Regions from separate parts of the Homo sapiens genome. Here regions 2 and 3 are each linked to region 1. The links come from fine-mapping of genetic effects on gene expression. A gene starts in region 1. Each other region holds a variant in brackets. All regions are shown on one strand. Distances are from middle to middle. Region 1 holds the start of NAA38 (N-alpha-acetyltransferase 38, NatC auxiliary subunit). Region 2 overlaps DNAH2 (dynein axonemal heavy chain 2). Region 3 overlaps KCNAB3 (potassium voltage-gated channel subfamily A regulatory beta subunit 3).

The links. PIP is the estimated chance that this variant, and not a neighbour inherited with it, causes the effect.
Region 2: its variant is fine-mapped to the expression of NAA38 in whole blood (TOPMed, PIP above 0.99).
Region 3: its variant is fine-mapped to the expression of NAA38 in whole blood (INTERVAL, PIP 0.95).

Annotation. Positions count from the first base shown.
Region 1 is chr17:7,855,629-7,859,628 of GRCh38, reverse strand. NAA38 (N-alpha-acetyltransferase 38, NatC auxiliary subunit) reads left to right here and starts at 2,070. Exons shown (of 3, transcript NM_001320925.4): 1 at 2,070-2,246; 2 at 2,431-2,614; 3 at 2,786-2,944. The coding sequence starts at 2,166. The coding sequence ends at 2,898. TMEM88 (transmembrane protein 88) reads right to left here. Exons shown (of 2, transcript NM_203411.2): 2 at 3,530-4,000. The coding sequence ends at 3,915. It overlaps CYB5D1 (cytochrome b5 domain containing 1), which reads right to left and starts at 1,626. Exons shown (of 4, transcript NM_144607.6): 1 at 1,335-1,626; 2 at 1,150-1,226; 3 at 805-1,023; 4 at 1-247. The coding sequence starts at 1,494. The coding sequence ends at 17. RefSeq lists enhancers at 649-1,510, 1,316-1,535, 1,864-2,158, 1,886-2,255, 1,511-2,373 and 2 more.
Region 2 is chr17:7,823,885-7,827,884 of GRCh38, reverse strand. DNAH2 (dynein axonemal heavy chain 2) reads right to left here. Exons shown (of 86, transcript NM_020877.5): 75 at 3,903-4,000; 76 at 3,581-3,764; 77 at 3,158-3,348. Among named protein-coding and RNA genes, the nearest start is that of KDM6B, 8.3 kb to the left of the region's middle. The variant T/C (reference allele first, on the strand shown) is at 2,019.
Region 3 is chr17:7,919,094-7,923,322 of GRCh38, reverse strand. It overlaps KCNAB3 (potassium voltage-gated channel subfamily A regulatory beta subunit 3), which reads left to right. Exons shown (of 14, transcript NM_004732.4): 14 at 144-1,464. The coding sequence ends at 221. Among named protein-coding and RNA genes, the nearest start is that of RNF227, 4.9 kb to the right of the region's middle. The variant A/C (reference allele first, on the strand shown) is at 2,139.

The sequences.
Region 1 (4,000 bases):
GTGTACATCTCCTTGCCTACAACTCCGTGAGATCATCATTGAAGTACAGAAGTATTGCAGGTGTGTGAAGTGTACCGTCCATACTGAGATAGTCAAATTCTTCCTCCTCATCCCGGATCCCATTCTCTTCCAGGGTAAAATCCATGTTCAGGTTCTTCCCTTCATATTTCCACGTGTAGCTGGCAGCATGTGAGTTATAGGGGAGATAGCGGTGTAGGATTTCCCATATGGACTCCAGAACCCCCACCTGGAGAACACAGAAGCACCCCACCCCCAGAATTCTGGATGGAGTATACATATACACACGCTGGGATCAAAGTGCCTCCCTTGGCAGATAGCAGCTTCAGGTACTCTACGGCCCCGGGAAAAAAAAGCTGAAACTCCAGCATGCAATGAGCAGACCCTAAAGTCCTACAGATCTTAATGGCAGCCACTTCTAACTACCGGATGGCCATAAAGGGTCAACTGTCCCCTCACTATATCCATGCAACAGAGTAGATTAAAAAGAAAGTCCAATTGCTGTCCAAAACGGCGTGTAAGAGCTTCGAAGGACCACCATCACTAAGATACATGAACTGCTGTTCCCAGGCTTATAAAGGAGTCTCTTGTCCCCCTGTGACCCAGACACTCCTAGAATTCCCAACCCTGGGGACCTAGGTGCTGTGCTTTCCTCAGTTGCCTCAATGTAAAGGACAGAAAATACACTCCCACCGGTTATGGAAAAAATGTTGCCCTGAAGATCGGCCTGGAGATTTGCTGGGATTCCCCATTCCTTCTAACCTGCTCCTTGTCACCAGTTCTCACCTCCAGTGTGTGCTCCTGCGACGTGAGCGTGTTAATGATGCGGATGCTCCGGGTCTTGGCAGACAGCCGCCCCACCTCATAATACGACCCCTGCCACCAGGGCTTCCCAAAATCGTTGGCCCAGTCCGAACAGGGCAGCTGAGGCGGAACGTGCACAAAGCGGCCCCGCGGGGTGCAGTACCTCAGGCAGCCGGTCAGCGGATCTATGTGCTTGCGGATCTTTAAAGGAGGGTTTGGGGCGAGGGTGTCAGAGCAGCCATTAGGCTCTGGCTAGCCTCCGCCTTTCCTTCCCATCCCCGCTCTCCATTTCCTCTACCCACAATCCCAGGTTCCAGCATAACTCACGTCTCTGGTCTTTGGATCAAACCAGTGGCTGATATCCTGGCCTGCAACTTCCACGATGGGTTTCAGCAGCAGGTTCCCTTGAAAAGAGCAGCACAGCCACTGTCAATGCCAGCCCTTCGAGAACCAGGCAAACGCGCGCGTGCACACACACACACTCCGGCCCCGGCCCAACGTGTGGCCCTTACCCTTGTATTCCTGTGCCAATGACGTTAGGTCGTACACGCGTCCCAGGTAAGATACCCAGAGGTCTTCGGGCCTGTTATGTTGGGCCACCTCCGCCGGCGTGAAATAGCGACGCTGAAAATACTCCAAGTCTGGCCCAGCCACCAGGCCCCGGCGCGGCATGGCTCTTGCTCTGTCGGTCACTGGATCTCTTGGTTACTCCTTTGCTCCTCAGCACGTACTCACTACTACTACGACCTCCGTCGCGTCCGGGAGCCGAGGGGAGAGCGTTTATCCGCTGACATGGAAACCATTGTCCTTTTCCGGCCACCGTCCACTGAGATAAATATCAGGGGCGGGGTTTGGACTGCACGTGTTCACGGGAAACGTAGTATGAGTCCCGCGTGGGGCATATAAGGATCAAGTAATTGAGTTGCGCCGCTTTCAGGAGTTGCGGGGTGGGGCAGAGAACGAATACGCTCCGTTTTAATTCAGTGGCCTGGGCTACATGGGATATTTAGGACAGACTATCTCTCTGAGACAGAAAAACAAGGGAGGAGGCAGTATGAAAGAATGTATTCTCGCTAAATTCCAGTTTCTAAAGGATGTGTAAGAAACCAGAGGTAAAGGTCTCGCGATATCTTAAGACATCCGGCGTAGTACGCTTCAGTGAGCCACAGCGCTAGAGAAGTAGGAGAAGCTCGCGAGATCTGTGCCGTTGCCGAGGAGACTAGGAGGGGGAGGAGAGGGGATCTCGCGAAAGGAAAGAGGTCGGGAGCGCTCGCGAGATCTCGGACCACCCAACCTGAAAGGTGCTTAGGAAGTTGAAAGGCCCAGAGGAGGCCTCCGGGCAAATGGCCGGAGCTGGACCGACCATGCTGCTACGAGAAGAGAATGGCTGTTGCAGTCGGCGTCAGAGCAGCTCCAGTGCTGGGGTTAGCACGGGCTCTGGTTCTGGGACTGAGGGGCAGTCAAGCAGCAAGATGGAGGGGGTGGGGAACTGCAGCTCCCGGCAGCCTCTGGGCTTTGTGTGAGTGCCCCGCGGGCTGCCGGGAGCTGTGGTTCCGCGGGCGGGCAGCCTGGGCTGCGCGGTCTGAGCGCTTGTTACACCCCGCGCAGGATTCGGACGGAGAGCGCGAGGACTCGGCGGCTGAGCGCGCCCGACAGCAGCTAGAGGCGCTGCTCAACAAGACTATGCGCATTCGCATGACAGATGGACGGACACTGGTCGGCTGCTTCCTCTGCACTGACCGTGACTGCAATGTCATCCTGGGCTCGGCGCAGGAGTTCCTCAAGCCGTCGGGTCAGTGCCCGGGGAATGCACACCCGCCTGGTAATGTGGCGGAACCTTACGCAAGGCATTTCCCCTTAAGGGCCTGGCTGCAACCCTTGTTTTCTGGGGCTCGTTTTCGTGGCTCAGAGGGGCGGGACTGATTCTGGCCTACTTTCCTGATGCTCTGATCCTTCTTTCCAGATTCCTTCTCTGCCGGGGAGCCCCGTGTGCTGGGCCTGGCCATGGTACCCGGACACCACATCGTTTCCATTGAGGTGCAGAGGGAGAGTCTGACCGGGCCTCCGTATCTCTGACCACGATGGCGCTTACCTTTCAGACTTCATTAAACTTATGACCGAATGGGCCTGTGTCTGTGTGTAGCTGGGATGCCGGTGCAGGATAGCACACCCCATCCCTAGAGGAAAGGGCTCATCTGAAGTCGGGAGCACCCTCAACCCTCCTCTCCCAACCAAGATGTCCAGGGGTGCCAAAGGTTCTCTCAAGTTCAGGGGTAGAGATGGGGGGCAGGGCTGAATGACGGACCAACAGGCCCCAGGGTGGGCCCCTGCATCTTCCCTCCCACGGCTGCTGCTCCAGAATTGTGGCGGGAGGGGGTGTCATCCTGCTCCGGAAGGCCCATTGTTTCCCACCCCGGCCTGGCAACACCGAGTTCCTCTAAGCTGGGGTCAGAGAACGGGCTCAGGTCCCCAAGGGGAGCAGCGGCAGGCGGCCGAGGCTGGGCCCCTCCACTCTATTGAGGGGGAGGTGCCTGGGGTCAGGAACAGATCTCTGAGGTCTGGCCAGGAAGAACGGACAAAAGCGATAAGGCCAGGGGGCTCAAGGATGCTCCTCTCTGCTCATTTGTAGCCCTGGCACATGTTTCCTGTTCCTCGGCACAGGGCAGGGGTGATAGTACTTGTGCCACGCCTCTGTTCGCAGAGCGCGTTCAGTTCGTTAAATCTTTATTGATGCGTGGACACTCCTTCCCCTCCAGCCCCGCCCCCCAGCCCCAGAAATACTAGAGAAGCTGCACCATAAAACGAGGGCACGAGATTGTTGTCCCATTCACGACGGAGCTGAGGGGGAGGTGTGCAGGTTCCAGCCTAGATGTTCAGGATTGAGATGTGGGTCGTGAAAGGAAAGTGGGTTTTCCGGGATGTGGGGGCTTTTCTCAGCACTGGGTCCACTGACGCTGCTGCTCCCAAGGGGATGCTAGGACTCCGCTCAGGCAGGGGTGGGGGCAGGGCAGGTCGGAAGATGCCGGGCTTCAAGTCCTTGGGCCGAATAAGAGGGAGGGCAGCCGTCAGGGTTGTTCTTGACTCGAGGGTCATTAGACCCAGACCTTTCCTGATGTGGGAACGGCCTGGGACCCTGGTGAGGCCCGGATTTGCCGCGGCTGCGGGGCGCGCCGACGCC
Region 2 (4,000 bases), 32 kb after region 1:
GAATAAAGGACCCTGAAACCCATACATATATGGAAACATGATTGAAGGCTGAGCAGGCACTACAGATCAGAAAAGTACTTTCGCAGTATTTGAGAAGTGGTACTGGGAGAATTGGTTATCCATGTAGAAAAAAAAAATTGGCTGGGCGCAGTGGCTGATGCGTGTAATCCCAACAGTTTGGAAGGCTGAGGCGGGTGGATCACCTGAGGTCAGAAGTTCGAGACCAGCCTGGTCAACATGGTGAAACCCCGTCTCTACAAAAAATAACAAAATTAGCTGGGTAGGGTGGCAGGTGCCTGTAATCTCAGCTACTCAGGAGACTGAGGCAGGAGAATCGCTTGAACCTGGGAGGCAGAGGTTGCAGTGAGCCGAGATCACGCCACTGCACTCTAGCCTGGGTGACAGAGCAAGACTCTGTCTCAAAAAAAGCAAAACAAAACCAAAGAAAATTGGACCTCTACCTCATACCACAGTCACAAAAATGAATTCCAAGTGATTAAAAACTTAAATGTGAAAGTCAAATTATAAATTTTTTGGAAGGCAAGTATAGGAGAGTACTTTTACAATCTTTAAGCAAGGATTTCTTGAACAAGACAAAGGAGCACAAACCATTTAAAAAAGGAAAGATAGCTAAATTCAACCTCATAAAAATTAAGAATTTCTCTTCACCAAAAAACAGCATAAAAGAGAAGAGACAAACCACAAAACACATAACTGACAAAGGATTAGGATCTGGAATATATGAAGAACTACAAAACGCGAAGAACATCATGAATGAATGTCAAGCACATAATGTTGAATGAAAAAAGCAAGTTGCAGAGAAACATATATAGCAATGGTTGCATTAGCAATACAAACTTTTGCATTACAATGAAAAAGAATCCCTAACTCCAGAGGAAAAGAAAAACATTATAAAGAAAATGACAAATACAAGATTCAGAAGAGTGGTTTCCTCTGAGTGGGGAGGGAAAGTGATGAGATTGGGAAGAGGCACACTGGGACTTCAAAGAAAATGCTGGGATTTTTCTTTCTTAAAAGGATGATGGGCCGGGTGCGGTGACTCATGCCTGTAATCCCAGCACTTTGGGAGGCCGAGAGTAGGCAGATTGCCTGAGGTCAGGAGTTCAAGACCAGCCTGGCCAACATGGTGAAACTCCATCTCTACTAAAAATACAAAAATTAGCCAGGTGTGGTGGCGGGCACCTGTAATCCCAGCTACTCGGAGGCTGAGGCAGGAGAATCGCTTGAATCTGGGAGGCGGATGTTTCAGTGAGCCGAGATGGCGCCACTGCGCTCCAGCCTGGGCGACAGAGTGAGGCTCCATCTCAAAAAAAAAAAAAAAAAAAAAAGATGATGGGCACACAGATATTCAAGGAATCATGATCCTTTATAACTTGCATATATTTTATAAATCTTCTTTTGTACCTACTTAATATCTAGCTTTTTTAAAAGACTGGATAGCAGGAAGTGACCCAGGAATATACTCCAGGACTATATCCCAAACTGGCAACTGGGGGCTGTGAATACAGGGACTTTCTTATTTGAAGTAAAACTCAGGCTGGGCACGGTGGCTCACACCTGTAATCCCTGTAATCCCAGCACTTTGGGAAGCCAAGGTGGGTGGATCACCTGAGGTCAGGAGTTCGAGACCAGCCTGGCCACCATGGTGAAACCCTGTCTCTACTAAAAATGCAAAAATTAGTAGGGCGTAGTGGCGCACACCTGTAGTCCCAGCTACTCAGGTGGCTGAGGTAGGAGAACTGCTTGAACCTGGGAGGCGGAGCCCAGGCTGCAGTGTAACAGCGCAATCTCAGCTCCCTGCAACCTCCACCTCTAGCCAGGGTTATCATACCTGAACTCCATATCTAACCTTCCTGAGCTCAGGTGATCCACCTGCTTCAGCCTCCCCAAATGCTAGGATTACAGGTGTGAGCCATCACACCCGGCCTGAGCCACCATGCCTGGCCAAGACGCTTTCTAAAAAAATATCCTGCCTCTAAACGTAATCACATTCTGAG[T/C]CTTGGGGGTTGGGACAAAAAAGTGTGAAACGAGTTGCTATTATGGTGCTGGTGTGCCAAGAAGTGCTTTGTAATCTGATGGCAATTCAGAGCTGGCACTGACTTTGGGGCTGATGCCAGAGATGGGATTAGAGTTGAAATCATGAAAAGGACAATTTCTCCAACAACTTGTGAAAGGAGAAAGTAGAATGAGAAACGCTGGGCCAGGACCAAGGGTCCCTCCCCTCTTTGGCCCTCCCCTCTTAGTCCTTAGGTTAAGGAGTAAGTATTGCAATCTGGTCACAGGCAGAGGAAAAAGAAACACCGAAGTAATAAATGATATGTCAAAAGACAGCGGGGAAAGCAGGAGTGATGTGTCAGGGAGCCAGGGAAAGGGACAGTCGACTGTGACAGCTGCCCCAAGTGGCCAAGGAGGATTAATAATGATGAAAGGCACCCATGCGTGATTCAAACAGCTCTTATCTGTTGAGGATGATACATACTGGTCCATGTGCTTTTCACAGGGTGAGCAAAAAGGATTTTGATCTCAACTAAGCGCAATGAAAAGCTACTAAAATAGTTTAAGCAGGGGTGAGTGGGTGAAGCGCAGTGACACGGCAGATTTTAGAGGGTGGTGATGATTGCATTTGGTGATGAGCTTGTGATATTGGAGATAAAAATTTCAGTAGAGTCGGAGGAAAGGAAAGGCAAAGAGGCAGGAAGTGTGACATTCGGAAGAGGATGTAAGGAAATGATGGGAGGCAGGAAGGTTCTGAGGTATAAAAGAATGAATTTGGGGACCCAACTACCCAAACTCTGGCTCTGGAATACTTATTTACTCTTTCTGTATCTCATTTCCTATCTTTAAAATGGGGGTAACAGTATTCACCTTATAGGGTGTGTGTGTGCACACACCCATATTAAACGAGTTAATAAATGTAAAGAACTTAGAACAGTGCGTGGCACATGATAATCACTCAAGAAATGTTAGCTCTTATTATTGTGTTCTAGGAGTTTGGCACAAACAGGAGAGGAATGAGGTGGAATTTTTTGAGGACAATCAAATCATGTTGTTGTTGGTTAAGCCCTCTCTCTGGTGCTAGCAGGAGGTAAGGTGGACCAGATGGCCCTGATGATGCTGGTTCTCTATGGCCACATACCTTTGGTGGCTCTGTGGTCATCTTGATGCTGACCTGCAAGATTGAGATAGGGAAGTCTGGGTGGGGGATGGAGCTGAGCCAGAGGCGGAAGGATGGATGAGGATCCTCCACCTGCAGCTGCTCCACCAGCTTGTCCAGATTAGGCATCCAAGACAGTGACAGGTGGCAGTTTGCCAGGAACACCCAGTGTCCTGCAAGGAGATGCCAGGGTCAGTGGGAATCATTTCCTAAGCCCTGCCTGTCCTCATGCTTTCCACCTGGTGTTGGGGTGGGGGTGCTGGGGGGGCCTAACACTAAGATCTGCCACTTCTGGGGCCCTCTGTAGAAGTGGGAGGTACAGGGACAGTAGTGTAATTGAGGTTGGAGGTTCTAGGGACAAGGACTGGGCTGAAGATGGGGGTGGAAGAAAGGATGGACACCAACCCTGAGTCACACCCTCTCGGAGGAGCCGAGCAGCGATGGGGGCCTGGCCCTGGCCCAGGGACAGGGCGTGGAAGCGCTGGGCCATGCCCATGTGCTCTGCCAGCTGCAGCAGGGCACTGGTGGGGTCCACACCAGGGGACAGGATGAACACGAGTGGGGATCGTGGGGTTGAATCCTCCAGCACCTGCCAGAAGCACAGGTATAGCATCAGGCAGAAGGCCACATGACCAAAGTGGGAGAGAGAGATGAAGGAGACTGAAACAGAGCGAGGGAGGCAGGAAAGACCCATGGGCCGTGGGGACAAGGAAGCCGAGCCACCGACCGACTTCATATTCAGCACAGGCGGCTCGATGAAGCGGGAGCCAAGGTTGGTGATGATGAAGGAGGTCACGCAGAAGGCCACGCGGTCCTGGCGCAGGG
Region 3 (4,229 bases), 64 kb before region 1:
CCGGAAAGCGAGGCACCGGCACAGCTGCGGCTCTTGCCTTGCCACTTGACCCCACTGTGGTGCTTCCCCGGCTACTGGAACCCCATGCCCTTTCTCAGTGACCCAGCATGGGCTGCCGTCGCCACCGTCCCACTCTCCTCCAGGTGCTGAGCCAGCTGACCCCGCAGACAGTGATGGAAATAGACGGGCTCCTGGGAAACAAGCCGCATTCCAAGAAGTAGTCTGTCGCGGGCGCAGGGACCCAACCCGGTGTCGCTGCACCCGCCCGAGCCCCGCTCCTCGCAGCCGCCTCTCCCGCTCCGGATCCCTCCACGCAGCGGCCGGAGCCAGACTAGCCCCGCCCACCAACGAGTCCCGGCTTCGAGTAGTGATACGCATGAACAAAGCCATATCCTTTTGCAGTGGGGTCGAGAGAGAAAGTAGCACGCCCGCCCCCTGCTGCGTCTTTCTAGGCCCTTCTTGCAAATCCCGGGCATGAGCTACTCGCCGTCGGCTCTCTGCCACTTCGTCTCGCTCCCTACTCTCCTCCCCTTATTCCCGAGGCCCAGAAAAGAAAACAAAAACAAAAACCCAGCACATACAAGAAACATACAGTGTACCTCAAAAGGGGCCCTTGAAATGTCATCAAAGGGTAATAACCTAGTGAGTGAGTTGTGATGTCATCTGGAACATAGGAAATGGGGCTCTTAGCGTATTCGGTACGAAGGAAGCCAGGCTGGTCCTGGCAGGAAGTAAATGATAATCTTTGGGAAACCAGGACCCTGCCTCCCAGCCCAGAGGTGGAGGAGGGCGGTCAGGGTGGGGTCTACAGTGGCACAGCACTGACAAAGGTAGAGGGAAATGTAATAGCACATCTACGCTGCAGTCTGGTGAAAGTGGCCGGGGTGGTCCTTGGAAAACAGTTGGGCTGTTCTTGGCAGGAATTAGTGACAGCCTTTCCGTCACGGGCAGGGACGCCTTGATTTAAAAAAAATAAATAAATAAAACGTCTGGGTATAGACTTTTGAGCCTTGAGCAGGGCCTCCTACCTGGCAGTGGGGAACTGCAGTCTTCCTCCTGGCAATAAACCTAAAGCAATAATGATGGCCCCTTCTCTGTAAGACTTCCCAGGTAACTGTAAATAAACCTCAGCTTGATCCTCACAGTGTCTAAAGTTGCAGGGGCTTGGGAGGTTAGGGTCACAGTCTCACTTGTCTGGCCCTCTCGCCCCCTAACATTAGAAATCTGCTAGCATTAGCTTTCTCTCCATTGCTCATTCACCTTGGTGACCCAGGCATCGGGCTCCTAGTCACTGTTCTCATCAAGGACCAAGACACCAGATACCCCAGGCCCCAGTTTTCTTCCTTCAGCTACCACATTCCTTAGAACCCAGAAATCTGGCTTCATAATTTTGTTCCTCCTCTTTCTATGAAAGACTTAGCTATCTGCCTTTATTTGTTTGTATTTAAAGTAATATTAGCCATACTTGTTCCTTGTACTTCTCATTTCTCTCTCGCTGGACACCCACACATATGCCAAGGAACCTGTGGCTGAGGGGGAGATGCTGTTCTGAGGTTGAGGCTTTGTGATTTGGTGGAGAGGTAAAGTGAAGAATGGTCTGAGGTTGAGGGAATACAGAGAGAAGGAAAGATGTTATCATTTCACTGGAACAGAATTGGGTGGAAAGTTACAACCTTAAAGATCACAAGGTAGAGGAGGATGAGCTCTGCCTTCCTTAAATACAACCTGCCCATCTCCCTTCTACCCGTCCTCATCCCGCCTTGATCCAAAAGCTGGGCAAGCAAAGTAAAACCAATTTCCAAAAGAGAAAAGTCAGCAGCATGCCATTTACTGGATTAGCAGCCAACTGCATCAACTAATTAATACTTAAATCCACCCCATCATCTCCCACTCATTTTGCAAGACTGTGGAGGAAACAAAGAAGTAAAATATATTACTAAACTATGATTAGTTATTCTGTAACATACGAGAATTTATCAATCCCAAATAGGATTCTCCTTAAATAGTTATCTTAGAGGGTTATACACTTATTTTAATGAACCTGTCCCATTGCTCAAAATATTAAAAACAAACAAACACCATTCCTCCTAGAATTACCTTCAGAGAGAGTTTGGAAACGCCTTGATTTAAAAAAAAAA[A/C]AACAAAAAAAAAAGCCTTCCTTTATTGTCACGCCTCCTTTGTATATGGACATTTGCCATATTTATCACCCACCTCATTCATTAATTTAGCAAGTATTTGTCTATTGAGTCCTATTATGGTATAGCACAGGGATACAAGGGTGAACAAAACCAGACTCAGAACCTTCATATATCTTGCTGAGGAGAGAGACAATCACAGAACCACCAAATAAATACAAACTTCTTGTCCAAAGTCCAGAGGAAAGCACATGGTATTACTGAGTCTGTAGTGGTTATTTGACATGGTGAGGTTACGCTGAGAGCTGAAGCATGAATAGGTGTTAATAAGGGTTAAGCAAGAGGGTTAAGAGCATATGCTAAGGCCTGTGGCAGAAAAGAACATACAAGCCAAAAGTACCCAAAGCCAGAGTGTCTAGAGAGGAACAGAACAGAAAGTGAGACATGGGTAATGGCTGGGTGCGGTGGCTCACGCCTGTAATCCCAGTACTTTGGGAGGCTGAGGCTGGTGGATCACTTGAGGTCAGGAGTTTGAGACCAGCCTGGCCAACATGGCGAAAACCTATCTCTACTAAAAATAAAAAATAAAAATAAAAATAAAAATTAGCCAGGCATGGTGACACCCACCTGTAGTCCCAGCTACTCAGAAGGCTGAGGCAGGAGAATCACTTGAGCCCAGGAGGCAGAGGTTGCAATGAGCTGAGATTGCACCACTGCATTCCAGCCTGGGCGACGGAGCAAGACTCTGTCTGGAAGGAAGGAAGGAAGGAAGGGGTAAGTTCAGAACACACAGGGACTTACAGGGCACATTACAATGTTATATTTATCTAGGCTGGGCGCAGTGGCTCACACCTGTAATCCAAGCACTTTGGGAGGCCAAGGCAGGTGGGATCACTTGAGCCCAGGGGTTCAAGACCAGCCTGGACAACATGGGGAGACCCCATCTCTACAAAAATACAAGAATTAGCTGAGCATGGTAGCTCATACCTGTGTAGTCCCAGCTACTCGGAGCCTGAGGTAGGTAGGTGGCTTGAGTCTGGGAGATCAAGGCTGTAGTGAGCCAAGATTATGCCACTACACTCCAGCCTGATGCTCAGAGCAAGCTCCTGTCTCAAAAAATATATTTATCATACAGGGAAAAAAAAACAGTAGGAAACCCTCTATATCCGTTATCTATTGATACACAACAAATCACCACCAAAGTTAATGGCCTGAGATAACTTTTTATTTATTTTTATTTTATTTTATTTGAGATGGAGTCTCGCTCTGTCACTCAGGCTGGAGTACAGTTGCATGATCTCAGCTCATTGCAACCTCCCTCTCCCGGGTTCAAGCGATTCTCCTGCCTCACCCTCCTGAGTAGCTGGGACTACAGGCGAGTGCCACCATGCTCAACTAATTTTTTGTATTTTTAGTAGAGACAGGGTTTCACCATCTTGGCCAGGCTGGTCTTGAACTCCTGGTGATCCACCTGCCTCGGCCTCCCAAAGTGCTGGGATTACAGGCGTGAGCCACCACACCCAGCCACTATTTATTTATTTATTTATTTATTTATTTATTTAGAGATGGAGTCTCGCTCTGTCGCCAGACTGGAGTGCAGTGGCGATCTTGGCTCACTGCAACCTCCGACTCCCTAGTTCAAGCGATTCTCCTGCCTCAGCCTCCCCAGTAGCTGGGATTACAGATACGTGCCACCACGCCCAGCTAATTTTTGTTTTTTTAGTAGAGACGGGATTTCACCTTGTTGTCCAGGAGGGTCTTGATCTCCTGATCTTGTGATCTGCCTGCCTCAGCCTCCCAAAGTGCTGGGATTACAGGCGTGAGCCACCGCGCCCAGCCACTTTTTATTTATTTTTAAGAGGCGGGGGTCTCGCTCTGTCACCCAGGCTGGAGTGCACTGACATGATCACGGCTCAGTGCAGCTTCGAAGTCCTGAGGCTCAAGTGATCCTCCCACCTCAGCCTACTGAGTAGCTGGGACGATGTGCACCACTGAGCCTGGCTTTTTTCTTTTTTTTTGTAATGATGGGGTCTCACCACGATTCCCAGGCTGATCTCAAATTCCCGAGCTCAAGTTATCCTTCCATCTTGGCCT